Linked DNA regions of Homo sapiens: region 1 is linked to region 2. Evidence: fine-mapped expression QTL. A gene starts in region 2. The other region holds a variant in brackets. All regions are shown on one strand. Distances are between the middles of the regions.

Region 1 (15,565 bases), 86 kb after region 2:
TTTTTCCCAGAACAAGTGATCCAAAGAGCCAGAAGCCACCATGTGTTTTATTACTAATCATGAAGACACACACACACACCACCACTTCTGTCATATTTTAGAAGTGAGTCATTAGGCTAGCCCACACTTAAGTGATGGGTGGGAATTAGGTTCTATCTTTTGGAGGAAAAACTGTTGAAGAATTTGTGGACACATTTTAAAACCTCCACATATAGTATTCATCTAGGATGTCAGGAAATGTGGTGTAGTCAAGACTGGGTACAAGAATTATGAGACCCAGAGCAAAATAAAAACGCAGGACCCCTCTTTAAGAGTTTCCAGACAGTGGTAACAGAGCATTAATCCAAGTGTGGGTCTTTTGAGGCATTGGGCCCCGTGCTATGGCCCAGGTGCCACCCCAAGAAGCCAGCTCTAGCTATAGTGGTTAAGGGCATGAGCTTTGAAATTACGAGTTTGAGTCCCAGCATACAAATTTGAGTCCCACTGCATACAAATTATGTAACTCTTGGGAAATTAATCTAGCTGAAACTCAACTTCCATTTCTCTAAAAGGGGTATGATTAATTTATCTATCACTTCGGATTCTTGTGAGCATTAAATGAAGTCAGTATTGTGCCTGGCTTATTATTGTAGGCATTTAATAACTTGTCAATATTATAATGATTACCTTTAAGGAGCTTTAGTGGTAGAGAAGAAAAAAGGATTGAACTGATAACTCAGATTGGTGATTTAGCGGATTATCATAAACTCCTTAAAGTGGGAATAGCACCTTGTGCTCTCTGCAGTACCAACATCTCTTTGAATTAGCATGGATTCATGCATTCATGAATTTGAAAAATATGGCCTGCAAGCTACAACGAAAATGGCTAAGAAGATGTATTTCAGAAATGGCACATTTTCAGCATTCTAAAAGGTAGGACCAAAGCGACTATTTTAAGAAAATCCACATAAGAAGATCAATATTTCATTGGCTGTTGTAATATTAGGCATTTATCAGCACATTAGAAATGGTTGCCATGAACTACTTTCTATTAATAACTTGGTTGAGACTGAATATTAAACGGGAAACTTCTCATAGCAATATTCTCTTTGGGTGGCTCAAACAACAAAAACAAAAACTATTCCTGGATGAAGTCTTCATACTGGCAAAATTATTTCATGAAACACTTTATAGCTTCAGACAGGCCTCTGCTTCCTTTCTTATGCTGCTGAGCACAGCTCAGTAAAAGCCAGCAACAATCCTATGTCATTTGTACAAACTCCTCAGCCACAGCTCAGGTATGCCAGGGCGGGCGCTCTAGCAATCCCACTTTGAAGGTTCTATTTCAAACCAGATAACTGGCCTTTTAAAAGTTGATTGTTTTCATAAGGACTTTCTTCTATTAAGCTCTTAACCAAAGCATATTGCTGGGCCAAGACATCTTTAATCATCTGGCAAAATCCCATGCACCAGCCCATGAAGTAGAGTCCATGGAACCCAGGAAGTATAGTATGGGCTTTGAATTACTACTGACCTGCTGGGAGAGTTAATGCAGGTTCCAAAGGTGCTGCACCTGCCTCTTCTGAAAAGATGGTCTCATCAAAGATTTGAGTAAGGAAAGCAGGCAGAGGTGCTGGTTATTTATCTGGATGAGCAGCCAAACAGGAAACATTAAGAAATATAGCAAGAGTTGGGTTCTTTTCACAAACACATTAACATCAGAAAAATAAACAAGCCAACTTAAGTGTGATTAGAGGTTTTTTTCCCCCTTAACTCTAGGCGGCGTTGTGTTCTTAGCAATAGTCTTCTTTTTCTCAAAGAACTTTATTTATTCCCCAATCCAAAATTAGTTCCTTAATTTGAAACAGCCATAAACAAACATTACTAAAGAAATCCCTTGGGCTCTTTTCTCCCACACCCTATCCCCCCACACACATTTTTTCTGCTGCTTTGTTTGTTCTCAGTTCTTTTTCCCTTTGTGCTGAACAGAAGGGCCTGCAGTGATTTGGCTTTCTGAAATCCCTTCATAAGTTTCTTGAAAGATATTTAAATTCCATTTTGACAGGAGAGAATTAAATTCACATTAATTTCCATCAATAATGAATTCAATCTAAACAAACTTCAGTAACATCAAATTACGGATTTTAGTTCTCTACTGGTTCCTAAGGTTGCTTGCAGCTCTCTAATTCTTTTATCGGCCTATTCTAGCCTACTGCTGTTCCTGGAGTATGAATGGAGCCTCTAATCAGAGCAGCTGTCCCAGCAACCTTGGAGAGATTCCCTTGCACCTTTTCCTCCACTACTCCTCTTCTCATTTTCTTCTTTATTTTCAATCTTTGCCAACCCCCTTTTTCCTCCCTGTCTTTCTTTGTTTCACCTCCATTTCCCACTCCATATCAATGAAGAATCCCATAGTGATTTGGCTTTCCTCTTCAAACCCATCCCAACATCATCTTCATAAAAGGGAATGTGCTGGTGATGTCCCTGGTTGCTCTGGCCTTTCCCCTGCTCTGCTGTCTATCACAGGGGACTGCATTTTCCAGTTCCCTTGCCCTCTGGCTTCCACATAGGCTGAACCAAAGGGAAGCATAAACAGAAGACTGGAGAGTGGGAAGAGGGAGGAAGCCAGGGAATTTCACCTCCTCTCTGCCTGTTTTGATGGTGTCTCTGGCAGTGGCTGCTTCTCCTCTATGATTTTAGCTGCTGGCGAACAGCCCCTCCCTTCATTGTCTCAGCATCTGTCAGGAATGCCCCGCACTGTGCTTCTGACTTCTCCTATCTTCCAGGCTTTGGTAACACCATCTTCTCCCTGAGTTTCTCCAGCCCTGGGGGAGTTAGTGGCTTCTGACTGTTGTTATTCTTTCTGTTACCCCACTTCTTAATTCCTGGGTTCTGCTTCTTCCATCACAGGTATGACAAGTTCTTGGCCAGGCATGGTGGTTCATGCCTGTAATCCCAGCAATCTGGGAGGCTGAGGCGGGAGGATTGCTCGAGCCCAAGAGTTTGAGACCAGCCTACGCAACAAAGTGAGACCCTGTCTCTACAAAAAACTAAAAAATTATCCAGGTGTGGTGGCGTACATCTGTAGTCCCAGCTACTTGGGAGGCTGAGGTGGGAGGATTGCTTGGGCCAAGGAGGTTGAGGCTGCAGTGGGCTGTGATTGTGCCATTGCACTCCAGCCTGGGCAACAGAGCGAGACCCTGTTTCAAAACCAAACCAAACCAAACCAAACAAACCAAAAACACCAAAAAACAAGTTCCTGCATTAAACCCGTTTGAGACACCTACAGTGGTTTCTGTTTTCTTAATTGGGCCCTGACCAAAATAGGGGGTTCAAGATTACAAAAACATCTCAGATAACAGTTTTCTAGAGCGGAACGCTGGACAGCATTACTTTATTAATTTGCAAGTCACTTTCCCTTTCACTCCCATCTGAGTGGGCACGTCCTGTCTGCTTCGCACCAATGCTTCTGTACTCCAGTAATGTGTTTTTCATCATCACATGTCCAATAATTTTGAATCTCACCTGATAGCAGCATCCCCTGGCTTATAAATGTGGGAAATATTTGCTATGGAGGAGTGATTTGTAGCATTTTGTGAGTCAAAGGCCTTTTGGGAGAATCTAAGGGATGGTCAAAATGCTTTCCGCAGAGAAAAATGCACACGTACCATGATTGTGAGTGAGCCTGTGTACATCTATGTGTGTTTATGTGGTGCATACACACGCAACCACACACACTTTGGCATAAAGCTTGTCAATCCCAGATTCAGAACCCTACCCCTACCATGTATGGTCCTTGGCCATATAATATTCTTCTATCCTCATTCAGGATGCCCTGGGTGGTGCCTATTATGTAACTACAGTTTTATAAATAACTTAATTTCTTCTAGTTTACCTCCTTTTAAGTGATGAATTAAACTTCAAAACATGAAGTCTATCAGACACTATTTTTGTGTCAGACACTTTGGACTCACCCTAAGGAAGATAGTTCCATGTTTTACTTGTGTAAAAAGATGTCTCTATAGTGATATTGAAGGATTCTGTATGTGAAACTGTAATTTCCTCCTGCTGTTTTAAGATATTCCTCTTTCTTATTGGCACCACATGAGATAAAGTTCGGTGACTGGGGCAGAGATTTATGAAGTGTTATTGTTGAATATATGTGTATGTTGCTTTCCTGTGGTGAAAGACCCATAACCCAAGACTTCCATTTTGGGATTGATTTGGGGCCTAGTGTAACATGTATGCTGTAATAAGCCATGGCAGATGCTGTCTATTTACTTCCTGCTGTCCCATGTGGGTTTCAGAGTGGATAATTTTGCTCATTCTTTTGGCCTTTGCTGTGGCTTGTCAAAAACTGGACTCATGTTCATAACTCTGAGAAGTGCTCAGCTGTGAAATAAGTACTGAAAAGATGAAATACAATTGATCCTGAGTCATTGTGATCATTCAAGCCCATGTAAGCAAGAAATAAGTATTTAAAGTGTCCCAATAAATCTTCTCTTTGAGCTTAAACATTTAGAAATTTAGAATACTTATAGACTGATTTCTGCAGGAAAATTAAGAAAAACATATGTGTTGGCTCTGAAGTAGAGATAGAAGTTATTATGAAACATTAGTGATAAGTTGAGTGGGGTCAGCCTAGTGCATCTGTTTCTGCAGAAGTGGGAATTCTTTAGCATCAAGGTATGAGAGTGTATAGCAGAAGTACAGGAGATGTCAATTAATCACTGTCTAGAAATAAAAAATCAGCTTTATTTTAAACAGTGTAGCTATTTGTTATATTTTTGCTTTTTACAACTATTATGCAAAAATTATTGGGGTTTGCTATAAGAAGATGGGGCAATCTTTCAAAGTGAGTGATAACAGCTATGAAGGAGCCATGAAAGAAGATACTGGAAACACTTGGTATTCATTCATTTGTGCACACATGCATACATGCATGCATGCAACAAGCATTATTGAGTGCCCACTATATTCCAGGACTTAGGTTACACACAGCATTGGAAAATAAATAGACATGATTCTGCCCTCAAGTTTGTCTCAGTGTAGTGAAAGAGACTGATAATTGAATAGGTAGTTTGATCATGGTGTGATATACTCCATGATGTAGGCAACAGAATTTTATCAGAGCACTGAATAAGTGCTCTTTTCTTGTTTGGGGGATCAGAAGACCTTTTCAGAGGAGGTAATGTTTTCTGTCTCAACTAAAAATACAAAAAAAAAATTAGCTGGGTATGATGGTACACACCTGTAATCCCAGCTACTCAGGAGGCTGAGGCAGGAGAATCGCATGAACCCCGGAGGCGGAGGTTGCAGTGAGCCGAGATCATGCCACTGCACTCCAGCGTGGGTGACACAGAGAGACCCCATCTCAAAAATAAATAATAAATAAATAAATAAATAAGAAAGAAAAAGAAAAAGAAGGCAGTAGGATGCCAAGTGTCAGAGGAGTCAAATGCTACGAGGACCCAAAACTGCCTTTAAGATGTGGCAACTGGTGGGGCGCGGTGGCTCATACCTGTAATCCCAGCAGTTTGGGAGGCTGAAGTGGGAGGATCACTTGAGCCCAGGAGTTCAAGACCAGGCTGGGCATAGGGAGACTTCCTCCCTACAAAAAATAAAATTAGCCGCCAGATATGGTGGCGTGTGCCTGTAGTCCCAGCTACTTGGGAAGCTGAGGCGGGAGGATAGCTTGATTCTGGGGTTGTACCACTGCACTGTACACAAAAAGCCTTGGTGACAGAGTGAGACCTCATCTCAAGAAAAAAAGAGAAAAAGAAAAAAGAAACGATGTGGCAACTGACAGATGATCACTGCAGACCTTGGCAAAATCAGTTTTAATGTAGTCATAAGAGCAAAGGACTGGGGTGTGAAAGTGAAGTGAGAAAGTAGACAGAAACCATATACTAAACTTTAAAAAACTTGACTGCTGGGTAGAGAGCTGTTAAGATACAGGCTTCTTTTTCAATAAACATACAAATTTCACTTTGTCACCCCTAAATTCTGATCAGATAGAGCCCCCTTCTCCCAGAAGATCATAGCTCAAATTTCTGGATACTTCCACCTACCAAACTGATTTCTTAAAACTTTACTTATTTATATTATAAAAGCAATCTTTTTTTCCCAAAAATATATTTATCATATAGTATACTATAAAGCGTCATCCAATACTTAAGACTTTGATATGCCCATCACACACTGAGGTTACTAATGAAGATAGAGTTCACCTGGACATCTCAGTGATAGGGGTAGGAGGGGGTATAATCTTTAAGTTCCAGAATTTATTTCAAAGGCAAGAAGTTATGGATAAACTATTGAACAGAAACCAGGTAGAACTATGTTGTTTGCAATAGCAACTAGCTTAGGAAACAGCTGGTTTGGAGTTTGAAGATTTCATATGTATTGGTTTGGGCTGCTATAATCAAAATACCATAGGCGGGGTGACTTAAACAATGTTTATTTCTCATGGTTTTGGAGACTGAGAAGTCCAAGATTAAGTCATTGACAGATCTGGTGTCCAGTGAGGGCTTGCTTCCTGGTTGGTAGGCAGCCACCTTCTTGCTATATCCTCACGTGGCTGAGAGAGTGAACGTTGGTTTTTCTCTTCTTATAAGGAAACTACTCCCATAATGGGGGTTCTACCTAATCACCTCCCAAAAGTCCTACCTTCTAATACCATCCCACTGGGGGTTAGTGTTTCAACATATGAATTTTGAGAGGACATAAACATGCAGTCCATAACACCATATATAAATCCTCACATATATGTAGTGGGCCAGCCATTTTTGAAGGCTCTAGCAGATACATGCACCACCCCCTCCCCCATCTCTATCAGCTCTACCTAAAATCTTGACTTTATTCTCTTTTTTGCATTAAGGCAAGCTCATCAAACTGGCCCAAGGATCTTGGATGCATCGCCCTTGGCAGATTGTGTTTCTTCTTTGAAATTCTCCTTTGAAGTGGCCCTCATTGCCAACCACCAAGCCTGCAATGGGGAGACTTCCCCCAGTACTCCTACCGATGCCTCCCACCCTGCCTACTACCTTGGACACATGACTTCATGATATGGAAAGAAGAATCTCTTCTGGAAAAGAGTGCAATAAAGAAATCCAAGGACCTGCACTCAAAGCAAATGTTCTCCGTGGGTGATTAGTATAAACCCTCATTCAGCATAAGTTGGTTATTAGATTTGCCAGTCTCTAACATGACCTAACGGGAAAAATCACCAAGTACTGAAATGTTCTGATGGAAGGGTATTAGAAAAAACCACTCAAGCAATATTTATTTATTTATGTTTTCAGTTGGGCCAATTCAGAAAAACAAAAATTTGCAGGCCACATATTTTGTCCAAGATGAAAATAGCTTTATTATTTTTTCCTGATTATAAAAATAATACTCATTTATTATTACAAAACTTGAAAGTTATTTGTATGAAAAGAAGTAAATATAGCTTGAAATCTGAAAGTTCATAGTGGGCCACAGTTTAAAAGGCAATTCAAGTAGTTTCTTTTTTATTTGATTGGCTAGAAAAGTGTTGATGAGTGACTTTTAGTTACTAAATTTTGAATATTTGAAATTCAATATTTAAATGTTTGAAAAAGAGGACCATAAAGGCCGTTTTCTAATCTTTTACTCAGAATTGAAATCCTGGATTGTGCTGTAGCCCTTGAGCCCCAGGTTGCACATTACTGATTTAAAAACACTTGGAACGACACGAGAGGTCAAGAGGGCTGGTGAGGCCTGGGGGAGCCTGGAAGCAGCATCAGGGTCCTCGTTGCCTTGGGACTGGGGGGACGTTACAAAGGAACAGGGAGTATATCCAAGAAGACAAAGACCTGAAGCTAGACCCTACCTTCTAGGAAGTCACAGACCATGACCGTCATGTTTACCATCTTGTTGTAGTGACAGGGCTAGCACAGGACTAAATAGATACTCAGTAAATACTTCTTGATTTAGGACAAATTTTATCTACTTCACTCTTTGGCCCTGGGGTAGTGGTGCCTGATTACAAGTCACTAGAATGGAAGAAGTCCTCAGGAATACTCAGTAAATACTTCTTGATGTAGGACAAATTTCATCTACTTCACTCTTTGGCCCTGGGGTAGTGGTGCCTGATCACAAGTCACTAGAATGGAAGAAGTCCTCAGGGTTGAGACTGTTATATGTCTGATAATCTAGAACAATTACAACACCCATCAAAGTTACCCAGTGGGACTAAAAGTATTTAGGCACCAAGGAACTTATGTACCAAAAATAAAGAGATTCTTCTTCCCCTGCCCAGGGTAAACCTTCAGGGTGATAGCTGCTTTTGACTGATAAAGATTTATAAGGCAAACTATAAAATTATAAAACATGATTTTCAATTTAATGAAACTGTGGACTTGAAGAAACATGCAGGTCTTTGAAGGAACCCCTCAGGGAGTAGATAAGAGTTTTGAAGAGACTAGGAACGAATGACTTTTTGAAGCAATTTATAGACCCAATGGCCCTGAGGGGAAAACGTTTGGGGCCTATGTGCTGTGTCAAGATTATCTCAGGTCCAGACTCAAGATCTATGGGAACTTTGTAGCACTCCCAGTCACTGAGAGGGGGGCTGGGGACAGATGAGGTTGGGGCCTGGCAAGAGGGCCCATAAGAATGTAAGACAAGCTTCTGCTCTCTTCTCTTACTCATATTGGCATGAATGGGTTTCAGGAAAAATACCCAGAGTATAGCATGTGTCTAATGGGAAGGATTATGCAGGCATCTTTATTTAGCAAAGGCCATGCTTGTCTTGGGGAGTTGGGTTGCTTGTCAACACCCTGACCTCCATGGTATGAGTCTTCCTCTGCATGAGATGGGCTGTGCTTTGGTGCTACTCTCTATAAACTTTTTCCAGCTTTATTCAAAGTTTAAGAACATCATTCCTGCAACTCCATCAGCAAGAACTGCTTTTGTCCTACCTTGCGCTCTGGAAAGTCTTTAATGAGATATCTGAAATTCTTGGCAGAGATTATAGGCTAACTTGATTTACCTAACATAATAATAACTCATGAAATTAGTTCCTCAATCTAACACTATTGAGTACTTTCTATGTTCTTAGGCTCTGAGAACACAATAGTGAACCAAACTCCACCCTCATGGAGTTTCTCATGTCGTACAGATGTCAAGATTGAGAATGCAGCTGAAATAATGGGCAACTAACCTTTTGCTTATATTTCTAATTTAAATTTTGGTTTATTCTGTCAATGGTCCCTAAACCTAGAGTTATGCCATTTTGGTTGTTAATACAATAGGATATTTTTGAGTTACACACAATTATCTTTCTCTACAGCATTTTCATATGCTAACACCTGTGATGAATGTATGCACCAGATCAAATATATGGATTTAGTTTTAGGGACTGAAGCAGAAACAGACTATTACGTCATATGTTTGCTAAATTACTTTTCATTTGGTATAGGTGGCCAATATTTTTTTTCCTTTGCCATAATATTTGCTTTTCCTTGCAGTACTCCTAGGGTCTCCCCAGCAATGAGGTGACAGCTCCCCAGTTATCATTAGAAAAATGAAAATGATTTTTTAAAAAGATTGGGAAAAAGTCTAGCCATTTTTCAGATTGATTTATTGTTTCACAGCTAGGTTTTGCCATCATAGTACTAACCTGCTGTAGCATGAGAAGAAATAAGAGACAACTATTTTACTAGTTGAAATGACAGAATGCTAAATTATAAAATGTCAAGGGAAAAAATTTAGGCAATTTAAATTTCCTGGCAATGGGTCTATAATTTATTTGTGGCTCAGAGTACTCTGAGCTGTAGAGAAATGCATTTTGTGGAGAAAAATTATACTTTTTCACTGCCTGATTTTAGTGCTCAAATTACATTTTTTTAAAATAAAGAATTGTTTTTGATTTTCAAATAGTCTAGTACAGTACCTAAAAGGGACCCTATTTGTGAGCTTTTCAAATTACTCTTTTTATCCTCAAATAGCTTTAGTAAATTTTCTCCCTGCCTGGGATAAGTTCCATCGGTCTTTTTACCTTCAAATATTCTTGATGTAATTTATCTATAGTTTGTTAAATACTTAGAATAAGAGTTGTGTTTTTACCATTGAGTTTTGGACACCGACAATGCTATAGAAACATTTTTTTTTGTAATACCTAATCTGAATTTCAAATAATACTTTAAACATGAAGCACTTATTTTTAAAGCACTCTTTAAATATATTTTAAAATATTTTATTTTGTATGAAGCTATTTAAGAAATAGCTAACTCAGTGCTTACTGCATTTGGAGGACTATCCTAAACTAAGAGACATATGCTAAAGAAATAATACAGTACACTTGACCCTTGAACAACTTGGAGATTAGGGACGCTGACCCTCCATGTAGTCAAAAATTCACGTATAACTTTTGACTCCCCAAAATTTAACTAGTAATAGCCTACTGTTGACATATCAGCCTTATGGATAACATAAATGGTCTATTAACACATATTTTATATTGTATCATATATTGTATTCTTACAAAAAAAGTAAGTTAGAGAAAAAGGAAATGTTATTAAGAAAATCATAAGAGAAAATATATTTGCTACTCATTAAGTGGAAATGGATCATCAAAGTCTTCATCCTCATCCTCTTCATGCTGAGTAGGCTGAAGAGGAGGAGGAAAAGGAGGAGTGGGTCTTGCTGTCTCAGGGGTAGCAGAGGTGGAAGAGGTGGAGGAGGTGGAAAGGAGGCAGGAGAGGCAGCCACACTCAGCGTAAGTTGCCTGCCTCAGCTTCACCATCTCTAAAATGGGATTATAATATAACCTACCTCGTTGGGCTGCTGTGCAGCTTCAACGAGTTAACACATATGTAGAGCATTTAGAATATTTCCTAGGATAGTCAGCTCTCTAAAACTGATGTTATCTCAGTCCTGGTGTTTTCGAACTGATTGACTAGTTTTATCTCGAGGCCTACTATCTAGTTGGAGAAGTCAAACATCCAGAAGAGGATGAATAAAAAGATTTCATGACCTGGGGCAAATTAATAGGTACTGAGAGGATGTGGCATTCAGATGCTACCATACGAAAGAAAGCAGAATCTAATTCAAGATGATGGTCAGGAATAGGTGAAAACCGAATTTAGTTTGAAAGGATAAGTAATGCCTGGGAATAGTGACCCACACCTGTGATCCTAGTGCTTTGGGAGGCCAAGACAGGAGTATCACTTGAGGCCAGGGGCTCAAGGCCAGCCTGGGGAACAATAGTGGGACTCCTATCTCTACAAAAAATACAAAGAAATTAGTCGGGTATGGTAACATGCACCTGTAGTCCCGGCTGCTTGGGAAGCTGAGGCAGGAGGATTGTGGGAGGATTGTTTGAGTTCAAGAGTTCAAGGTTACAGTGAGCTGTGATTGTGCCACTGCACTCCAGCCTGGGTGACAGAGCGAGATCCTGTCTTTATTTTATTTTTTAAAAAAAGATAAGTAAAGCAGGTGAAAACTGTTTGGGTGGGTAGATGAGAGACAAAATATAGCAAAAACAAAGACTGAGAATTTTAAAGATAGAGTCTTTAA[C/T]ACATTCAACATGATGTAAAATACCTAAGGACAAACAGTATGAGCCGCTTCATAAACTTAGTTGAATGAAGACAGAGCCAGTGAGAAAATCTAAAAGTATGACTTCCAGTCCACTTTTATGTTTGCTACACCAAAAGGCAGTCATATGGTTCTTTCGTCAGTCTTCTTGTCAATGTTGAACTCCTTTTAATTTTCTTGAAAGGGCTCAAGTAAAACCAACTAAGAAAAAATAAGTCTTACATGCCTAGTGGTAATTACCTTCCTGGGATACATAGAGATATGCTTTTACTTCTGTATTTTCCACAAGGATGGCAAGATTTCAATTGAATGAATTTAAATTGTTGCATGTTTCCATTGAGGCAAAGCACACTTCTTGTATTCTTTTATTGCACTCTTGTAATTTGATAATTTATGTTTTTCACCCTAAATCTCAATAATAGTTTTCTACTTCTTTTTATTTCTTTCTGTTTCCTCCAAATAGATTGAGGAGAAAGTAAAAAATGCCTTTGTAGTTGATGGATTTATTATCTATTCTTTTTTTTTTTTTTTTTTGAGATGGACTCTCGCTCTGTCACCCAGGCTGGAGTACACTGGCGTGATCTTGGCTCACTGCAACCTCCACCTCCTGGGTTCAAGTGATTCTTCTGCCTCAGCCTCCTGAGTAGCTGGGACTACAGGAGCGTGCCACCACGCCTGGCTAATTTTTGTATTTTTAGTAGAGATGGGATTTCACCATATTGGCCAGGCTGGTCTCGAACTCCTGACGTCATGATCCGCCTGCCACAGCCTCCCAAAGTGCTGGGATTACAGGTGTGAGCCACTGCGCCCAGCCTATTATCTATTCTTGACAATTGTGGGAATAACTTTAATCTGCTTTTTATAATTTCAAAAGTTGTTGATTGATTGGTTTTTGAAAAAAATGGCCAGGAAGGTAAAAGTGTTTTAAAACCTGTATGTCCTCAGAAACTTGGGTTTTGAGATTTATGAAAACTAGGTAAACAGTATTTTTAAAAGAGAAGCATGATTTTTCTCTAGAAATATTTTTGGCTAATAACTTGGTTCATTTTCTTAGTGTTTATTAGGATAAGTTCTACAGTTTCTATTATTTTCTTTTTTGAACTTGCTAAAATCATGGAGAAAGTCTTAATTGTCCTCACTATGCGAGGTCCTTCTAGAGGCCGAACTGTTCTGACATAACTGTGTCCTATCCCTTTCTTGAGTCAGGAGTTTCAAAACTTTACTTCTAGTAGCTAGCTATTTTGATAGACCTACTCAGCACATAGTTGTCTCAAACCTACTTTTTCTAAAATCTGGCCACCTTCCAAGATCAAAAGTTTATAGAATTCCCCCACTCTTCAATTTGTATACATCTTATATTCATGAACCTGCCATCTGCATTTCTGCTATTTTTGAAAAGCTGAACTGGACAGTAGAGGTCAGAAGTTCCATGAACTGCCAAACTGCTATAAGCAGTCACTTGGGAACCTAAACTCAGACAAGCAAAATGGAGAAGTGAGTCTAACACACGTCACCAGGTAGCAGGTTCATATGTTGCCTATTGTGAAGGCTGGGATCTCCAGGGTTTTCATTATGCTAGGTTATCAAGGTCTGAGGTAGTGTGCTTGATAGTGAAGACTATAGAGTCAGACTATCTGGGTTCAAATTCCAGCTCTGTCACTGTTCTAGGTGTCTATTGCTATGTAACAACCACCCAGATGACAATCTTTTATTATTATCACTTACGTTTCCGGGGCCTGATTTGGCTCAGCTAGGTTTTCTCTCTAGGTCTCTCAGGCAGCGTGGTCAGTGACTGTGGCTGGAGTTCTTTCAAAAGCTCGCCAACTCACATGCTTGATATAAGTTGTACTGGCAGTAGACCAGGTCCTCAGCTGGCACCATCAGCCCAAACACCTACACATGGCCTTCCCTGTGGCTTGAGCTTCCTCACAATATGGCAGCTGGGTTCCAAGGGTGAGTGTCCCAAGGGAGAGCCAGGTGAAAACTTCATCTCCTTTTATGACCTAGGTTTGGAAGTCACATAGCATCACATCTGCTGTATTCTATTTGTTACAATCAAATCACTAAGTCCAGACCATATTCAAAAGGAGGGCAATTAATATCCACTCTCTAATGGGAGTCTTCAAACCACCATAGCCATGTATTCCCTGAAGACCTCTCTGTCCTTGGCTTTGCTGGTCTGTAAAACAAGGATAATGAGAGAAACTTACCTCAGAGCTTTTTGTGAGGATTAAACAAAGAACAGTCCCTGGTACCCAGTATGTGTTAGTTTCGCCCATTATCACACCACTTGTACATCTGAAGTGATGCTGATGGTGACATCAATGATGAGACAGTTCCCAGCAGATATAGTCTGTGAAGGTCCCACCTTTCCAAACTCTACTAGTGGCATTTAACAAATCCCAGCGCCTGTGGTTCTTATGCCAGTGGGAACAGTTACTATATATGGTCTGAATTCTTTGGTTCACCTCACTTTAGTGACAGTTTCCAGATACAGGTCAGTCCATTTAAACCTGGCCCATTTATGGCAATTTATTTCATTATAGGATAAAGTAGTTAGAACCATGAGTAATAATTACTGTGTCTACAGTGCTTTTAACACCTCAGCCAAGTAATCCTCATCTCACCCAGTGAGTAAGTTTGAATGCGCACCCTTCCCTGTGCGAGGATGAAGAAACCAGGACCTGGGTCAAGAGGATTGTTCTAAATTCTCCAATGAGGCAATAGGGCTTGAGTGAGAAGGTGTGTGTGTGTGTGTAGGGGGGGTGTCCTGATTCTCTGGCCCCTACATGCCTGTATAATATACCCCATCACTGATCATTACTCAGGACCTGTTAATACACTCTATTCAAATACGTATGGGTATTTGAAATTTCTTTTAAACTACCTCTCATGTATTTATAACACAAAGAATTGGCCAGTGTCTATTTCCCACAATGTGAGATTAAGTAATTTAAAAGATACTAAAAGTCTTGTAAATGAAGACACACCACACCACTCAGTATAATTTTTTTCTTTTTCTGTGAAACTAATATTTTCTGATATTCTCGGCATCCAAAAATTTTCATCTTGGGGAGGAGGAAAAATTGAGACTTACTCCCACTGTTTGCCGGAATGTGACCCCAGGCTGGCTTCGAGTTGTCAAATGTTGTATTTCTCATTTTATGTCAGTGAGTCTGGAAGCAAAAAAGGTAGAAAGACTGCCTTCCGTGGGGGCCGCGACGATCGCCCCTCCTTCCCTCAAGCCTCGTCCCATCCAGGCTCGCCCCGGGTGCGGAGGGTCGGGCCGCAAACCCGCAAGGCGCGGAGGCCGCCGCGACGCTCACCGGGGGGCGCTGTGAAGCCGGCACCGGGCGGACAGAGGTGAGTCGGCTCGGAGGCGGTGGCTCCCGTTCCTGCCCGCGCGCCGAGGGGCGAATCCCAGGCAGCGAGGTCGCCGCCCCCGCCCCTCGGCCGGCCCCTCCGCCAGCGGGCGAGAGGGGAGTGGCCGGGCTCCTCCCGCCGCCGCTGAGCACTCCGCAGCTGGGTGCGCACGGGAGCCTCAACCGCGGCGCGTGGAGGCAGTACCAGAGCGCGCGGCGCGCAGTCGGCCGGCAGCCGCGGGACAGCCTTGGCAGAACAGCCGCGGCGGGAGCCCCGCAGCCCCGGGCTGGGCCCGCGTCCCGGAGCGCCACCGGAGAGCGAGGACGACGTGGAGGCGGAGTGGCGCCCGGCGAGGTAGCGCCAGGCGAGGTAGCGCGAGCGCTTTCTCTCTCTCTCCCCTGCCCTTCCCTCTGCGTCCGTCGTCGGCCCCCGAGGCGCCTGCTCCGCGCCTTTGTGCCCGCGGTCCCTGGCCCCGTCGCACCCTGCGGGCGGGGGTCAGCGGGCTCTGCCGCTCTCTTGGGAGACGCGGCGCTGCGGCGGGAACGGCGCACGCTGTAGGTTGCGGAGGGTGGTCGTGACTCCGCAGTGGCTTCGGGGGTGGCGGGAGGGAAGAAGGGCTTGTAAACTAAGTTGCTCTTACTTTGCCCCATGCCTCTCGTAC
Region 2 (16,159 bases):
TTAATGGGATTATAGTAGGTTAAAAAGAAGCATAAAACTCAGGTTTGTTTAGGTGTAAAACCATAGCTGACAATGATTTTTACTACTAGCTTCTGTGTTGTTAATACAAATGCCCAGTAAGCACAATTTATAAATTGATATATATGGAAGCACAAGAAAGAGCAAGTGTTTTTTTCAACTCAAATATCTTAATTCACCAAATTGTTTTTTGAATTCCTAGTGTGCACTAGAACCATATTGAGTACTGAGGGTGAGGGAGGGGGGTCAGAAAAGGAGATCAGCCTTTTACCCTCAAGGACCTTGTGACCTGGTTTGACACACATGCAACACAGATGAAAGGGACAGAAGGAGATGCTGCTTACCTTGTAGTTGTTGCTGGAGGGCTGGAGGATGAGAACACAGACTAAAGCATGTGGTGAAGGTTTTCTTGTTGCACTGGAACCTACATAGATTCTTTAGGGATGGATGGGAACTAGACTGGTGGAAGAGGGATGGAAGAGCATTCCTGGCCATAGGACCGTCATGGACAAGGCTGAGTCATTCAAGAGTGTGTGTGACGTGTTCAGGAACAAGTAGTAGATCTATTTTTCTGAGGTAGGGATGTGGAGGAGCTCAAGGAAGATTGTTGGGAAAGGTCTAAAGAGGAAAGATGCTAGAGGGCCAATTAACACATGCAGATGAGTTTGTGCTCGAGCTGAAGCGTGACTGGGGGTAACTGCAGGTTTTTGAGCAGTGGCGTAGTGAAATAGAAGTGATGGTTTAACAAGGTTCGTCTGATACAACTGGCCAGAGGAGAAGCTTCCCTCACAATCTTATCCTCCAGCCCACAAAAGATGGGTTGTTTTCTTACCCCTGATTTACACTGAGAAAATCCTGCTATTTTACCTACCAACAATAAGAATCATTTATTGAATGCCTACATCTTGCCAGAAGAAAAGCTCCAGACTTCCTCACAATTCCAAAAGGTAGATAATAATTATCTTTGTTTACATTAAAAGATACAGGTCAGAAGATTAAGTGATTTGCTCAAAGCCACATTTGAGAGTCAGATTTTTAACCCAGACCTTCTTGGTTCCAAAGACCATGCATCATCTATTAATATTTTCCCCATCTGTGCTTATCTAGCAAAGTGACCTATGGACTCTTTACTAGTAGGCTAAGAGTTAGCAAACTTTCCTATAAAAGGCCAGATAAATGTGATATACATATATATCATATGTAAATATGAGACACATATATACACACATATATAATACACACACATATTTTTATTTTAGGCTGTATAGGTCATGCTGTCTCTATCACAACTTCTGCCATTGTAGTGTAAAAGCAATCATAAACAATATGTAAACCAACGAGTGTGGCTGTGTTTCAATAAAACACAGAAATTGGAATTTCATATAATTTTAATGTGTCAGAAATATTATTTTAAATTTTATGATCTATTTTATTTTTATTCTTTTCCAATCACTTAAAAATATAAAAACCATTCTTAGTCATGGGCCATATGAAAATGGGCAGTGGCCTTTTGACTTGTGGGCCATGGCATGCCAATCCCCATTTTAGGTTTATAGATTAGATCACTAAGCTAATAAAGCCACCATTAAATGATTTGTCTCCATAAAAGACAGATTGCTGTATGCTGCCAAAAATCCTGTTTTGTCGGCAATATGCTATTGTCCTGTTTTTAGTCAAGTGTCTTGCAGATTTACAGGGGATTACAAGGGCAAAGATAGCTCAGCGCAATCCAAACAACAATAGGAAAAACAATATATTTGTCCTTCTCACAAATGTAATGTCAAGAACATTTCTATTATAGTCTAGTTAAAATGTTCTAAAAATGTGTTAATTGTAGGTTTTGGATTCTAAAAATGTCTCCATGAAGAATGGCACAAAGCACTTTTTCTGTTATTTAATACGTTGTATGCACTCAGTAAATATTATAGCAGTCCATGGTCAGGGTTTATTACATTAGAACTGTTGGGTTTAGCTCCATATTAGCCTGCTTTTAATTCTTTAGATCCCTGATTCACTTACTTGATTTACTCACCCCTTAATCAGTAAACATTGCACATCTACCACAAGTCCAGACTTATGCTGGGTGCTGGAAATTCAAAGTTGAACACTAAAGTCCTTGCCTCAAGGAACTCATGATAGGGAGAGAAGTCAAACACATAGAAATAGCAATAATGTCGAATATACTAAATGCCACAGTATCGATGTGTTCTGGTGCTGAGGAAACACACAGAGATGGGCTCTGCCTGGGTGAACCAGAGAGTACCAAAGAACACTTTTAAAGGAGTGTGAGATCTGAACCAAATCTGTAAGAATACATTCACTCATGATGCTCTCATTTAGGAATGAGAACAATACTAACTCTAACTTGTTACCTAAGAGACAAAGGCAAGGGAGGGCTGCTGGAGAGCCGTGAAACTGTGGTCTGGTCAGTGTTGTTGAACTGAATCATAGCTAGTAAACAAGATACATGCAAGTCCCACATGCAACACACTTGTAATGTATTTTATACACTATACTTTTAGTGTATTTTATTTTCAACATTTCATGAAAAATGTTAGGTAATAAAATTGAGCACAAAATTTGTAAGTGGTAAGACAACTCAATTTTCCCCTAAATTTCATTTGAAAATAATATAAGGGTACATATTTAATTTTTAACTAAATTTAAGACTCATATATCCAAATATTTTGGAAAAGTAGAATGCATTCTTACCTGAAGGACCTTCCTAATTCTTTTTAGATTGTGTATCAAGAGTAGGTTTTTCTCTTTGGAAACACGACCTAACTGTTCATCCAGTTGTATTAACAAGTTTTGAAGAAGAATCGTTGCCATGGTTTCATTGTTAGAAGCTGCCTCCCTAAAAAAAAAAAGGATTATTACACAACAGAAAACAACTTTGTAAAATGTCTACTTTTTTACCATACTAACTTTAAAACAATAAACCTATTACATGGTGATAAGCATTTAAAAGTTTTAAAAAATTAAATTGTTAACATGAAGAGATGCTCAACATCACTAATCATTAGGGAATTTCAAGTGAAAATCAGAGTAAGATACCACTTCATACCCATTAGGGTGGCTATTATAAAAAGGAAAAGAAAAAACAGAAAATGAGTGTTGGTGAGGATACAGAGAAATTGTGCAATGCTGGTGGGAAGGTAAAATGGTCAATCACTGTGGAAAACTATATGACAGTTACCCAAAATATTAAACATAAAATTGCTATATGACCCAGCAATTCCACATCTGGATATATACCCAAAAGAATTAAAAGCAGGGACTCAAACAGATATTTGCATACCAATGTTCCTAGCAGGGTTATTAGCAATAGCCAAAATGTTTGAACAACCCAAATGTCCATTGACAGATACATTTATAAAACAAAATGTGATATATACAAACAATGGAATATTATTGAGCTTCAAAAAGGAAGAAAATTCTGATATGATACCTGTTAAACATGAATGAATTTTGAAAACATTACACTAAGCAAAATAAGTCAGTTACAAAAGGAAAAATATTGTGTGATTCCAATTATCTAAAGTACCTAGAGTAGTCAAATTCACAGAGACAGAAAATAGAATGGTGATTGCCAGGGGTTGGGGGTGGAGGACTAGGGAGTTACTGTTTAAAGAGTACAGAGTTTCAGTTTGGAAAGATGAAAAAGTTCTGCAGATGGATGGTGGTGATGGTTGCATAATAATGTGAATATATGTAATGCCACTGAATAGTACACCAAAAACAATGGTAAATTTTATGTTATGTGTATTTTACCACAATAAAAAAGATGGCTGAAAAAAATTAAATGGTATAAGGTGAATAGAGCTTTGAAGAGTATAAATCTTACTGAGAAAAAAATATTGATTTACATTGAGTCTGTGATAGAGAACTGACAATCAATTGATTTGCTTCTTTTTTTAATACATGAAAAATTATTTGGGTTTTTGTTTACAGAGAAAAGAAGCACTGGAACCATTAACTTTTCATTTACAATGAATGGAACCAGAAAGGACAATTATTCCCCTTCTTTGGGAAGGCTTTCAAATCCTTGAGAAAGTTCTTTACCTGAAAAGAATGCATCTACTGAGTAAAAAGTGGACCATAAAATAAATTCACATGGATAGAGCATCAGACATTTGTGCATCAACTTCTAGGGAAAATATGTTTGATCCTACCAGTCTTGATTTTCAATCCATTGGGCCAACAGATGCCGAATTTCCATGGGAAAGTTGTCATCATAGAATTGATCCACCTGCTCCAAAAACTTGATTTCTAACTGTTGGACTTGATTCCACTGAGACATGCTATAAAAGAAGGTGTAGAATTAGAGTTTTAAAATATTGTTCATAGCCCTAGTACATATTTTCTTCTTTCCTTAGAATTAGTCAATGTTATGACTGAATTCCAATATATCCAAGGATACAAAAATTTCACTAAGGTTTTTTTTCATAATTCAACCCTAATGAAGGGAGCAGCCTTCTTTCTGTGCCCCTAAACTACAGCCTTCCTTGCTCTAAAATGAACTCCTGTTCTACCTGCTCCAAAAAGTTTTCACTCCCACTCTGCCAAACACCCCACATCCTGCCCACAGCTGTCTATGTGAATTTCTATTATCAACAAGCTCTTTCCCTATCTCTTGTCCCCTCAACATTTAGACTTGGAGCAACTTGAAGGCAAACGTATTTGACATTTACTATACCTCCTAAAACCCTCTAAGACTTTATATGTGAGGAACAACCCCCCAAGAAGCTTCTTTTATATGAAATTGCCAAATTTCTTTTTTCTTTATTTCAGATTTGTCTGGCTTCTAGAGTCAGCTTTATGTTCTTGACTTCTAGTCCAATTTTGTCTTAGCTTCATGAAGAATTTTATGTATGCATTTTCGTAGGCTCCAGTTTTTTAAATTAAAAATATTTCTGAACCAGTGAATGTGTTTCATTTCTCTCTGTGAGGATCCATTATAGATGGGCAAAGCTCTTAAAGGATGTAGTCTTTTTGTCTCTGAGAAACATCTGATAGTGGTTAAACCCTCAAGTTACTTAAGGAGTAAGAAACCACACTTGATACCTATTTGGCAGCCTGTCATAAAAGAAAAGTACGCATTTCCCCCTTGTAACCCCACTCTGGCCAATTTAGAAGCTGTAGACATATTTCCTAACTCAGGAAAATTAGTATGACGCTGCCTCCTTGAAATTACAGCATTTTATGTTTTCCAAAGTCAAATTTTTGGTTGTTTTCTCAGCAATTCTAAGTCAAGTAAAAACACCAAACCCCCTTTTACATGATTAATCACCATAACATTTCAACATATCTCATAGATAGGCTAAGGTTTCCTTTTGCCTATAGAACACCAGGGTAATTTCATATATTTCATATACATATTCTTTGGGTTTTAAGTAGAATCATTTTGAGCACCTTTTCCCTGAGCTCCTGGTAAATGACTTAAAATTTATAAAAAAACGTGTTGCCAATGTTTTGCTAAAGAGAAAGCAAGTGGGAAAAGAAGTAATGTTTTATTTGCATATCATTTTATATTTATGAAAACCTTTACACTTTACAATTCTAGGCATATTGTAAATGCTCAATCAATGCTTGTTAAATGAAGAATGAGTGGCACTCCTGACATTGCTATGAATATGGTAGGTGGATATAAGTAGTATGTCAACTTTAAAAAGGAAAAACTTGAAGATCAAATAGGCGAAATGACGCCTGCCTAATGTGTGAGGCTTCTAAGGGACAACCTGAGGTTTCCTGAGTCTGAACCATTTGTTTTTCCAGATATCGGATGTATATATATTCCATCGGATGTGTATATATTCCACACAAAATTGGAACATTTGTTCTCATGCTACTATCAACATTGTCCTATCTATCAATTTATTTTAGTTAATGACAACAGAGAACATGAGTTGAAAATAGCATTACAGTTTTTCATCATACTATTGTTAAACCCCCGCTATGATTTGGATGAAAAATCTATTTTCTAACTAAAACTTACAGGTAGATGGGAGGAATAAGTTCTAGTGCTGTAACACTAGGATGAATATGGTTAACAATAACTTAGTGTATATTTTCAAAAAGCTAAGAGGATTTTGAATGTTCACAACACAAAGTAATGATAAATGTTTGAGGTGATGGATATGCTGAATATCCTTTGATCATAACACATTGTTCATATTTATTGAAATATCACTGTATATTCCATAAATATTTACAATTGTGTGTCAAATGAAAATAAAAGGAAAATTAAAAAAAATAAAAATAAACACCGAAAAAAATCACTACTAAGATCTGAGTCTTTCGGAGAGCTGAATTCAAAGCTGAAAAAAGGAAGAAGAAGGAATACATAGTCCTAGGACATTTTCTATTGCAGCCTCTGGGAACGCCTTTAGACATCCTTCAGCAGGTTTCTTTGCTTTCACTCTCTAGGGGCTACTTCTTTCTCATGAAAACTGTGACGTTGCTTCTGAAAACTCAGTGCCTGTCTGTCCTTTTTGCGTGCATTTCCTAGAAGATCCCACTAAAGGGGCATTTTGTCCCACCGTCTGTGAGCTGGTGGTGCCGCTTTGGCTCTGTGGCCTGTAGCTTGCAAAAGGAGATGACCTGCCCTAAAATGTCACTCGCGCCCATCAAAGCCACAGTCACCGGCTGCCGTAGCTGCAAGCTTTTTTCTGAAATCCAGGTACGCTAATCTAAAGTCAGACATCACAGCTCTAGAGAAGCTGGCTAAGAAAGTGAAGAGGGGCTCACTTTCAGCCTCCGCGAGGACACACCTCCGCAGCCGCCGCAGCTCCCCTGGCCCCCGCAGGGAGATTCGCCCGGGCACCGTGGCGCGGGCCTGCGGAGCGGTTTCCGCGGAGAACCCGTGCCAGGGCGCATCTGTGGGTCGTGGAGTCGGGCGCTTCCTTCTATAATAAGCCTCCTCAGGAAGGTTAAAATGAAGCAATTGTCAAAACGCCAAGGGAAAGCAAAGCTTCAGAGTATCCTGCATAATAAGCATGTCCTCCTTACAAGAGGCAGCCAGAAGGTGTGGTCTGGCCACTTACCTAGCGCTCTCTCAGCACAGGTCCCAGGCAGTGCTCAAGTCCAAAGTCAGAAGCGCCCCTCACAGTCCCTAGGAGAAAGCCGCTGACGCCATCATCAGTAGGGGATTTGCATTTCTCCTCCCACTTGAGGCTTTCCTGTGCGTCAGTGTTCGAGTCTCTGGGACTTTACTTGGGTCAGTTCCCACCCACTCTATTCTAGAAATGCTAACACGCAGAAACTGCCAGGCTGGAGCCCCTTCACCGGGCGTCCTCTTCCCTCTTATCCCTCCCAGCGGCTCTCGCAACTGCAGGTGGCTCAGCAGTGCCAGGAAAAAGGGGAGGGGCGGGGCATACATTTTCTTCAGTGGTTTCCTTAGACAATCTGAGATCCTCTGCAGAGTTACTTACCTGGAGCCCAGTTCTTCAGCTTCCTCTCTCCCTAGTATAAGGCTCCACTCAGCCTGGTGAACCACCCCTGGGATGGAAGGGATGGGTAGCCAGGATCAAAACACCAAACTCATAGACCTTACTGGGCTCCAATTCCAGCGGGGTCCGCTCACTCCGACGAGGGTGACCTGACCCAGAGGGTTGGGCCAAGTCCTGGGTAGGCCACCAGTGCTTGCCCTTCCTGACCTAGCCTCCTCCTACTCTCCTTGAGTAGCCTTGCCCCTGGTTGCTACGGTGCGTTCTTCTCCCTTTGTGACATCAGCCTGTTCTAGAATCACAGAGTTGGAGGAAGTCTTGGTCCCATCTAATGCTAAATCCTCTTTCATATCTGAAGAGACCCAGTGAGGTGACCAAGAGGACTCAATAAGTTAGCCACGGAGCCCGATAATAGCCCAGGTGTTTCCCTTCCCACTTCAGTGGTCTTTTCATTTCATCTCCTTGTAGTTAGCTCTTAACCCCTTGATTCACAGTAGGGGTTCAATAAAATAAAGAGAAGTCCAGGCGTGTGGCTCACACCTGTAATCCTAGCACTTTGGGAGGCTGAAGTGGAAGGACTCCTTGAGCCCAGGAGTTTGAGACCAGCCCAGGCAACACAGTAAAATCCCACCGTATATTAAAAAATCAATAAAAATGTTTAAGAAAGTAAAAATAGTAAAACAAAGACAAAAATAAAGACAGACAGACAGACTGAAAGAAAGGTAGAAAGTGTCACTCAATTTGGTTATACACATGCTTAGAGCAATATACCAAGGTGAAAGGCCTGCCTCCCTCTTCCCTGACGGGTTTCACACAGGTACACCCTCTGGATTCTTCTCTCCCAGGTGACATTATCATGTGCTTAAACTTACCACCCACCCCCAAATAGGTCAATCAATCCAAAGTCACACTTTCCATATCACTGTAAATTTCCTGGTTAGGTAGGCCTGGTCCCCACTGCTTGTTGAGCAGGCAGTTTCCAGGAGCTTATGCTGCTCTGACCCTACATAAGAAAGTGCCAATTTCAGGCTATTCCATAAGCTACTAAGCAAAGTCTGATTTTCTTCTGGAGAAGCTGTCACTGCCTATAGGAAAAAAATCCAAATTCTTGGCAGTTTAAGTTCTGTACAGTTTGGTCCCAACCTATCCAGGAAACTTTTCTCCCCTATAAGAGCCCATGATGTGACCCAAGCAGTCACCTCAGCTGCCCAGATTAACCTCATATTTCACTACCGAGGCTTTCTTCAACTGGATATTCCTCCCTGAGCCTACCTACTTAGTGAAATCCTATAGTTCTCAGTGAAGACTTCCCGATGACCTGAACCCACAGCAATGTTTCCCTGCTCCAAATTCTTCATACTTCCTGTCCAAACCAGCGCTCTCCAAGAGAAATAAAATGTAAGCCACATATGTAATTGTAAATTTTCTCATAGCCATATTAAAAAGGAAAAAAGCACAGGTGAAATTAATTTTAATATTGTAAATAACCCAATATATACAAGAATCTTAACATTTTGGCATATAATCAATATAAAAAATTATCAATAAGATACTTTGCATTCCTTATTTCATACTCAATCTCTGAAGTCTGGTGTATATTTAGCACTTACAGGGCATGTCAGTTAGGACTAGCCACATTCCAAGCCACATATGGCTAGTGGCTGCCGTGTTGGACAGTGCACATCTAGACCACTTATTTAGCACTTTTCACTTCCTGCCTCATAGTGTTAGTCACACTGGTTTTACATGTCCTTATCATTATCATATTCAATTGTTGAGTGCCTGCTGTACAAAACAGAGTTTGTTCTCCTCCTCCTTTTCAGGGCCTTACCTTGCGGCTTCCACAGCAGTTTTTAAACCTTTTGTTCTCAAGATACCATTATTCCCTTAAAAATTGTTGACAAACCCAAGGAATGTTTGTGTATTACTGTTCTGGATGAAATTTTTATTTACTGTGTTAAAACTTAAATCTGAGAAAAAATTAAAATATGTATTTATTCCTTCAAAATGACAATAATAAACCCACTCCATGTTAAACATGTTTTAAGAAAAACAAATATATCTTCCAACATGAAAAACGTAATGAGAAGAGTGGCATTTTAAAAATCTCTTTAATGTCTGGTTTGAGAGAAGACAGCTGGATTCTCATATCTGTTTCTGCATTTAATCTGCTGCAAAGTATTATTTTGGTTGACATATTTGAAGAAAGTATGGACTCACACATTTATGTAGTTGGAAAAGGGGAGTATTATAATGACCTTTTCAAATAATTATTCTTCTTTGATACCACATCAAAACTCAATGAGTGGTAGTTTCTGAAGGGCTAGTTGCATTGTGAAATCTGAAACCTTATCAACATATACTTTATGTATACTTTATGTAAACATATACTTTATGTATACTGTTACATTCAAATCTTTTGTTGTATATATTTTGAATGAAACTATTACCCACAAATTATTTTGCAATGTCAGACACTGGTCATTTAAAAAACATTGGTCCACTGAAGTATGCAGATTTTCTAAATGCTGCCTACTTCATCATACAATGAATACAACATTTCATCATACAGTGTTCAGAAATTCATGTCAGGTAATATCAATGTTGATCTCATCATGTAAGTATTTTAAATACTGGGAAGCAGTCAAGCTCAAATTCTAATTTTTGCTTGAAAGCTCAGTTTTATTATTGGCAGCAGATACTACCAGTTGTTTTCCTTAAAGTGACAGGCTCGTCTTGGCAACTCAAACAATCACGCAAGTGCTTTTCCTCGAGATGACCATCATCCTTTAATATGTGCCTTTTCCATTTCATCACAAAGAATATTAAAAAGACGTGTACTTAAGGTCTGAGATTTAATAAAATTAATAATTTTTACTGCTTCATCAAAAACATTCTTAAGTCAAACTGGCATTTTATTGTAAGTGCATGGTGGTGAAATATACAACTGCTAGTATAATTTGGCACCACTTCCTTGCTTTGTGCTAAGGCCCCAACAGTTTCACCCACCTTTGCTTTGGTACCATTGGTGCAAATGTCAGCAGGGTGAAAAGACAAAACTGTATTAGTATTATTATAAAAATAGTTTAACCTTGCAGATGCTCTAAAAAGATCTCGGGGACCACTCCCAGGGATCTGCAGGTAACACTTAGAGAACCTCTGCTCTATTTGCCATATGCTGCCAACTGTAACTCGTTTATCCAGAGATGTCTATCATGAGGGACTCTCTGCCCAAATACGCACTTTTTTCTTGGTTAAATCTTCTGCCTTGAACCTCTGTCTTCCTTCTGTATTTCATGAGTGGAGGAAGACATCTAAGAAAGGGCGCTTCTATGTCCAATTTGTTTCTCTTTTTTAGAATCAAAACTAAATAAGCAGGTCTGCAGTTTCTTGACCCTACACTGGCCCTGGCCTTGTCAGTCCCTCAGAGACAAAGACATAAAAAAATTCGAAGTAAAATGAAGAACAAACCAAATGCTAAAATGAAACCCCTGGAAGGTTTTCCAAATTCAAAGGCCCCCACAGATTCCTGTCTCCTTTCTCAAACAGCCACCCAGTTGCCCTGGTGATAAGCCCTATATCTAATTTTTTGCTGCATCATGCTAAGAAGAAAATCCCAGATTAAAGACTTTCAGAAAAGTAGCTTCTAGTTCTGGTGTGTCAATTTCTAGTGGCACAAAGTTATATAAGTTACCTAACTTCTCTAACCCCAAAACTCCCTGTCTATAAAAGTGGGGATATTATGTCCCACCTGAAATTGCTGGGAAAAGTCAAAGATATAATGTAAGAAATGGGATCAGGTTAAATGCTGAATCAATAGCTGTTAATAATAGAATAATAAACAAGTTATGGGTAACTTTGGCACTCACCAGGTTAACCCTCCAGCTTCCCTGCCACCTTGCTGTACAGAGCGGAAATGGAGATGAAGAGAGTCTGGGTGGGATAGGCAGGTTCACAGTTGTAAATAGAAGATAGGGTGGATTCAAAATCGGTTCTGATTGTGCTTTTCCCACTCTGCCCAGTGGAGCTGCTTTTGTGGGAAACAGAGAGAGGAAGAGAGAGGATATCACTCTTGCCGCTGTAAGGGAGGTAAACCAGCTCCACCTTCTCCCAATTTTTGTACAAAGAATATAAACATTTGCTAGTTTCAGTTTTGTGATATCACCATACTTCTCCTCTCCCCTCTTAAGTGTTCTGAGGAAACTGGGGTGAGCTGGAGTTGGAGGTTGGACAGACAATATGTACACGCAGAAAGATGCGTTGAGTTCCCTGGTTGCATATGCTAGTACCACATGAGTGGGACAGCAAGGATTATTGGGATAAGATGGCCTGGTGTGAATCTCATCGACTCATCTGTGTGCAGGTTGCTCTAGCTCCATCAGAACAGGAACATTGTCTTGTAAAAGGGTTTAATATCAATCTTGCTAATTTTCTGAAGTCCAGTTCCCATTGACTCTGCTCCCTCTACTGCCATCTCAGAAGCATTGCAATTTACAAATCATAGTCATATACCTCCATGCCAGACATAGTGCCAAGAACTTCAAATGCATTGTTTTAGTTAATCCTCACAGCACTCCATAGGATTAAATATCATGATTATCTCCAATTGGCAGATAAGGGGACAGAGGTTTAGTGAGCTTTAGTGAGGCTTATCAGAGGTAAGGACAGATTTGGGATTCAAACTAAGGACTGTCTGAGCTCCAGAAACAAAGCCCATAACCATTCTGCTTTACTAAAAATCTTATCTGCTCTTATGAGAAAAGCAATAACTTGCTCAGAGAGCTATAGAGGAAATAAGTTTGATGACTTAAACATGAATTCCAAAAAAGAGAGGATCATTGCATAGTCCAATCTTTTGGCTTCCCTGGGCCACATTGAAAGAATTGTCTTGGGCCACACATAAAACACACTAACGCTAACAATAGCTGATGAGCTTTAAAACAATCTCATAACGTTTTAAGAAGTTTAAGAGTTTGTGTTGGGCCGCACTCAAAGCTGTCCTGGGCCATATGCAGCCCATGGGCTGGACACACTTTGTCTACAGTTTTCTTTTCTTGTAATGTCTTCTGGAAGCTTGGGTAGAATTGGTATTATTTCTTCCTTAAATGTTTGAAAAAAAAATCACCAGTGAAGTAATCTCTGACTGGAGTTTTTTTCTGGTGGGAAATTTTTAAACTACAAATTCAATTTATTAGATCTAGGACTACTTAGGTTACCTATTTTCTCTTGAGTGAGCTTTGCCAGTTTCTGTCTTTCAAAGAATTTATATATTTCATCTAAGCTGTTATTATATACATAAAGTTGTTTATAATATTCCCTTTTAGCAAGTTATTCTTTTAATTCCCTTTTATCCCAGTTATTCTTTTAATAGCTGGAAAATCTGTAATAATCTTACCTCTCTCCACTCTGATATTGGTAGTTTGTGTCTTCTTTTTCCCCCCCCAGGACAGTTTTACTAAAAGTTTATCAATTTTATTTATATTCTCAAAGAACAAACTTTTGGTTTCATGGATTTTTTTCTATTGTGTTTCTGCCTTCTGTTTCATTGACTTCTACTCTTCGTTTCCTTTTATTTACTTCTGTTTCAGTTTGCTTTCTTTCTCATATATATATATATTTTTTTTTGAGACAGAGTCTCGCTTTGTCACCCAGGCTGGAGTGCAGTGGCACAATCTCGGCTCACTGCAACCTCTGCCTCCCGGTTTCAAGTGATTCTCCTGCCTCAGCCTCTGAGTAGCTGGGATTACAGGCACGCACCACCACGCCCAGTTAATTTTTGTATTTTTAGTAGAGACAGGGTTTCACCATGTTGGCCAGGCTGGTCTGGAATGCCTGACTTCGTGATCTGCCTGCCTCGGCCTCCCAAAGTGCTGAGATTACAGGTCTTATATATTTTAAGGCAGAAACTTAGGTCATTGATTGGATCTTTCTTCTTTCCTGATATAAGCATCTGCATATTTCTTCCTTTCCATTGCTTAAACTACATCAAACAAATTTTGATATGCTGTATTTTAATTTTCATTTATTCTACTTAAAATTTCCCTTGTGATTTCTTCTTTGATTTATGTTTGGGTTTTAATTAATTAATTAATTAATTAGAATTGTGACTTTTGTTTTCCAAACATTTGGATCATTTTCCAATATTTTCCTCATATCCATTTTTAATTTAATTCCATTGTGGTTAGATAACATACTTTTTTGTTATTTGAATTATTTAAAATTTATTGAGTCTTGATCTATGGCTGAGAATGTTTTGGTCGATGTTTAAGACACTTAAAAGAATGTCTTCTCTGCTCCTGTTGGGTGAAGAGTTTTTGCAATCTCAGTGAGGTCAAGTTGGTTGATAGTATTATCCAAGTCTTCTATATCATTCCTGATTTTCTTCCCATTTATTCAATCTATTATCAGAGGAATATTTAAATCTTCAGCTATAATCCTGGATTTGTCTGTCTTCTTTCAGTTCTTTCACATTTCATTGCATGTATTTTGAAGCTCTGTTATTAGATGCATAAACATTTATAATTGTTTTGTCCTTTTGATGATTTTCCTTTTATTTTTATGAAATGACCCTTGTTATCTCTGTTAATATTTTTGGCTCTGAAGTCTACTTTGTTTTATATTTATATAGCCACTGCAGGTGTCTATGATTAGTGTGAGCATGATATATCATTTTCCCAATATTTTACTTTTTACTTATTTATTTATATTTGAAATGTGTTTCTTGTCTGTAGTATATAATTGGGTCTTGCTTTTTTATCCAATTTAACAATTTCTAATTTCTGCTTTCATCAAGTATAAAGAGCTTTTTCCACTCTGGCTGTTGAGAATATAAATTATGCCTAGCCTTGTGTGAGCTCCAGAAATTTTTCCACCTGCTCCTCTTTAGTGAGTCCTCCCCACATCTTTGAGTAGTTCCTTTGCAAACATGGACTATTCAGTACTCAGCTGAAGAATCAAGGGGAGCCCTTTGCAGTCTTCTTCCTGGTACTCTGCCCCGTAAATTCTGACCAAACTCTCAACTCTGCCTCTTCAACTCTGAGAGAATGCCAGGCTCTATTTGAGCTTCCTCTTTCTGTGCTGGAGCTTGGAAACTTTCTCCAGAAAGTAAGCTATGAGAATCATAAAGATTGCCTCATTTGTTCACTTCTCTTGCACTGCCTATTTGTCAATTTCTGAAAAATCATTGTTTCACGGTTTTTGTTTGTTTGCTTAGCTGTGTGTTTAACATGAGCAGGTAATCCACTAGGGAAGGGTTGCCAGATTTAGCAAAACAAAATAAGACTGCCAGTTAAATTTGAATGTCAGACCAATAACGAATAATTTTTTCAGTCTATATATGACCTGCATTTATAGTATAAGTATGTTTGAAATTCAAATTTCAGTGGGCTTCCAGGATTTTTATCTGGAAACCCTAATCCCTGTTAATCTATTATGTCCAAAAGCAGAAGTCCCCTGAGACTCTTTTAGGTGCTAGAGCTTGTAGTTGTTGGAAATCTATTCAATTCAGTGTGAAATATTTACTGAGCTCATACATCACAATGAGAATAATTTAGGGTTGAATTGGCAGAGAAGACAAAATAAGCATATGAAATTAATAATGCTCAGTTGAATGGCAATGCCAAATGTAAATGCCACAGGAATTCAGAAGAATGACCACAATGAACTGAAGTGGTCAGAAAAAGCCAGAAGATGAGATTAATAAAAAAAGTGAAGGATGAAAGAACTGTATTCAGGTATGGAGAAGAACAGTGATGCTCAGCCTGCTTAAAAAAAGGCCGATCCTGATCCAGGACTAAGATCGGCACCCTTCTAGACAGGGAGAAGAATAACCTAAACCAAAGATTTATAGAGGGTCATTATAAACAAGATTAGTTGGTATCAGTGTCTCTAAGAATAGCTGTTTAGTTTGCTCATTATGCAAGAGTGACTGGTTGAGGGGGATGAGTGAGGACTGAAATCTAAACTGAACTTCAATTCCCAAGACATAAGCATTGGTGCAGGGCTGCAGCCAATTGGAGGAAGAAATGATTTTTCTAACTTGAATGTACCTTGTGGGGCATCTGAGGTCTTGGTGGGAACTTCAGTGTCTTCCTTCTGAGTAGCTGTGATATGATGACTTCTGTAACTTGACCCAGACTTTTTAGTGCTAGAGTCACTACGGGGAGAGATGGGTGGAGAAGTTAGAAGATACATCATCTCTGAACTGTGAGCATTCTGTACTGGGCTATTGTGCAGAAGAGGGTGAGAAGGGACAGGATGAAATTGGTTTTATAGTTGGGGGGAACAAAGTAGGTGAAGGGAGATGGAGCTGATAGGGCTTTAGATGAATATGTGATAGAACACCTCCGAAGTTCGGCACCAGCACCCAGAGGTCTGAATATCAATAGTCTGAAATATTGGTGCCATCCAATAAAGAGTGGCCCCTAAATCAAACACTGTGAACTCAAAGCCCTCCTGGGACAGCCAGATGATGGGTCTGTAGAGAATCAATCTTTCTTTCTTTCTTTCTTTTTTTTTCTTTTTTTGACAGAGTCTCACTCTGTCACCCAGGTTGGAGTGCAATGGCACAATCTTGGCTCACTGCAACCTCCGCCTCCCAGATTAAAACGATTCTCCTGCCTCAGCCTCCCCAGCAGCTGGGATTACAGGCCTGCATCACCATGCCTGGCTAAATGTTTAAATATTTTTAGTAA

Alleles and levels. Alleles are on the strand shown, and positions count from the first base shown. SD is a standard deviation of normalised expression in the study named.
For the expression in tibial artery of the gene that starts at base 7,112 in region 2, allele T in region 1 goes with a lower level than allele C (small effect, 0.39 SD a copy in GTEx).

The links. PIP is the estimated chance that this variant, and not a neighbour inherited with it, causes the effect.
Region 1: its variant is fine-mapped to the expression of STAT4 in tibial artery (GTEx, PIP 0.96). The same link has a PIP of 0.9 or more in fetal neocortex.

Annotation. Positions count from the first base shown.
Region 1 is chr2:191,230,354-191,245,918 of GRCh38, forward strand. MYO1B (myosin IB) reads left to right here and starts at 15,051. Exons shown (of 31, transcript NM_001130158.3): 1 at 15,051-15,273. MYO1B-AS1 (MYO1B antisense RNA 1) reads right to left here. Exons shown (of 4, transcript NR_186085.1): 2 at 13,267-13,720; 3 at 1,514-1,624. RefSeq lists an enhancer at 14,937-15,559 and a silencer at 14,972-15,361. The variant C/T (reference allele first, on the strand shown) is at 11,524.
Region 2 is chr2:191,143,883-191,160,041 of GRCh38, forward strand. STAT4 (signal transducer and activator of transcription 4) reads right to left here and starts at 7,112. Exons shown (of 24, transcript NM_003151.4): 1 at 7,065-7,112; 2 at 4,194-4,322; 3 at 2,731-2,875. The coding sequence starts at 4,321. RefSeq lists a silencer at 6,752-6,801 and enhancers at 7,272-7,321, 7,452-7,531.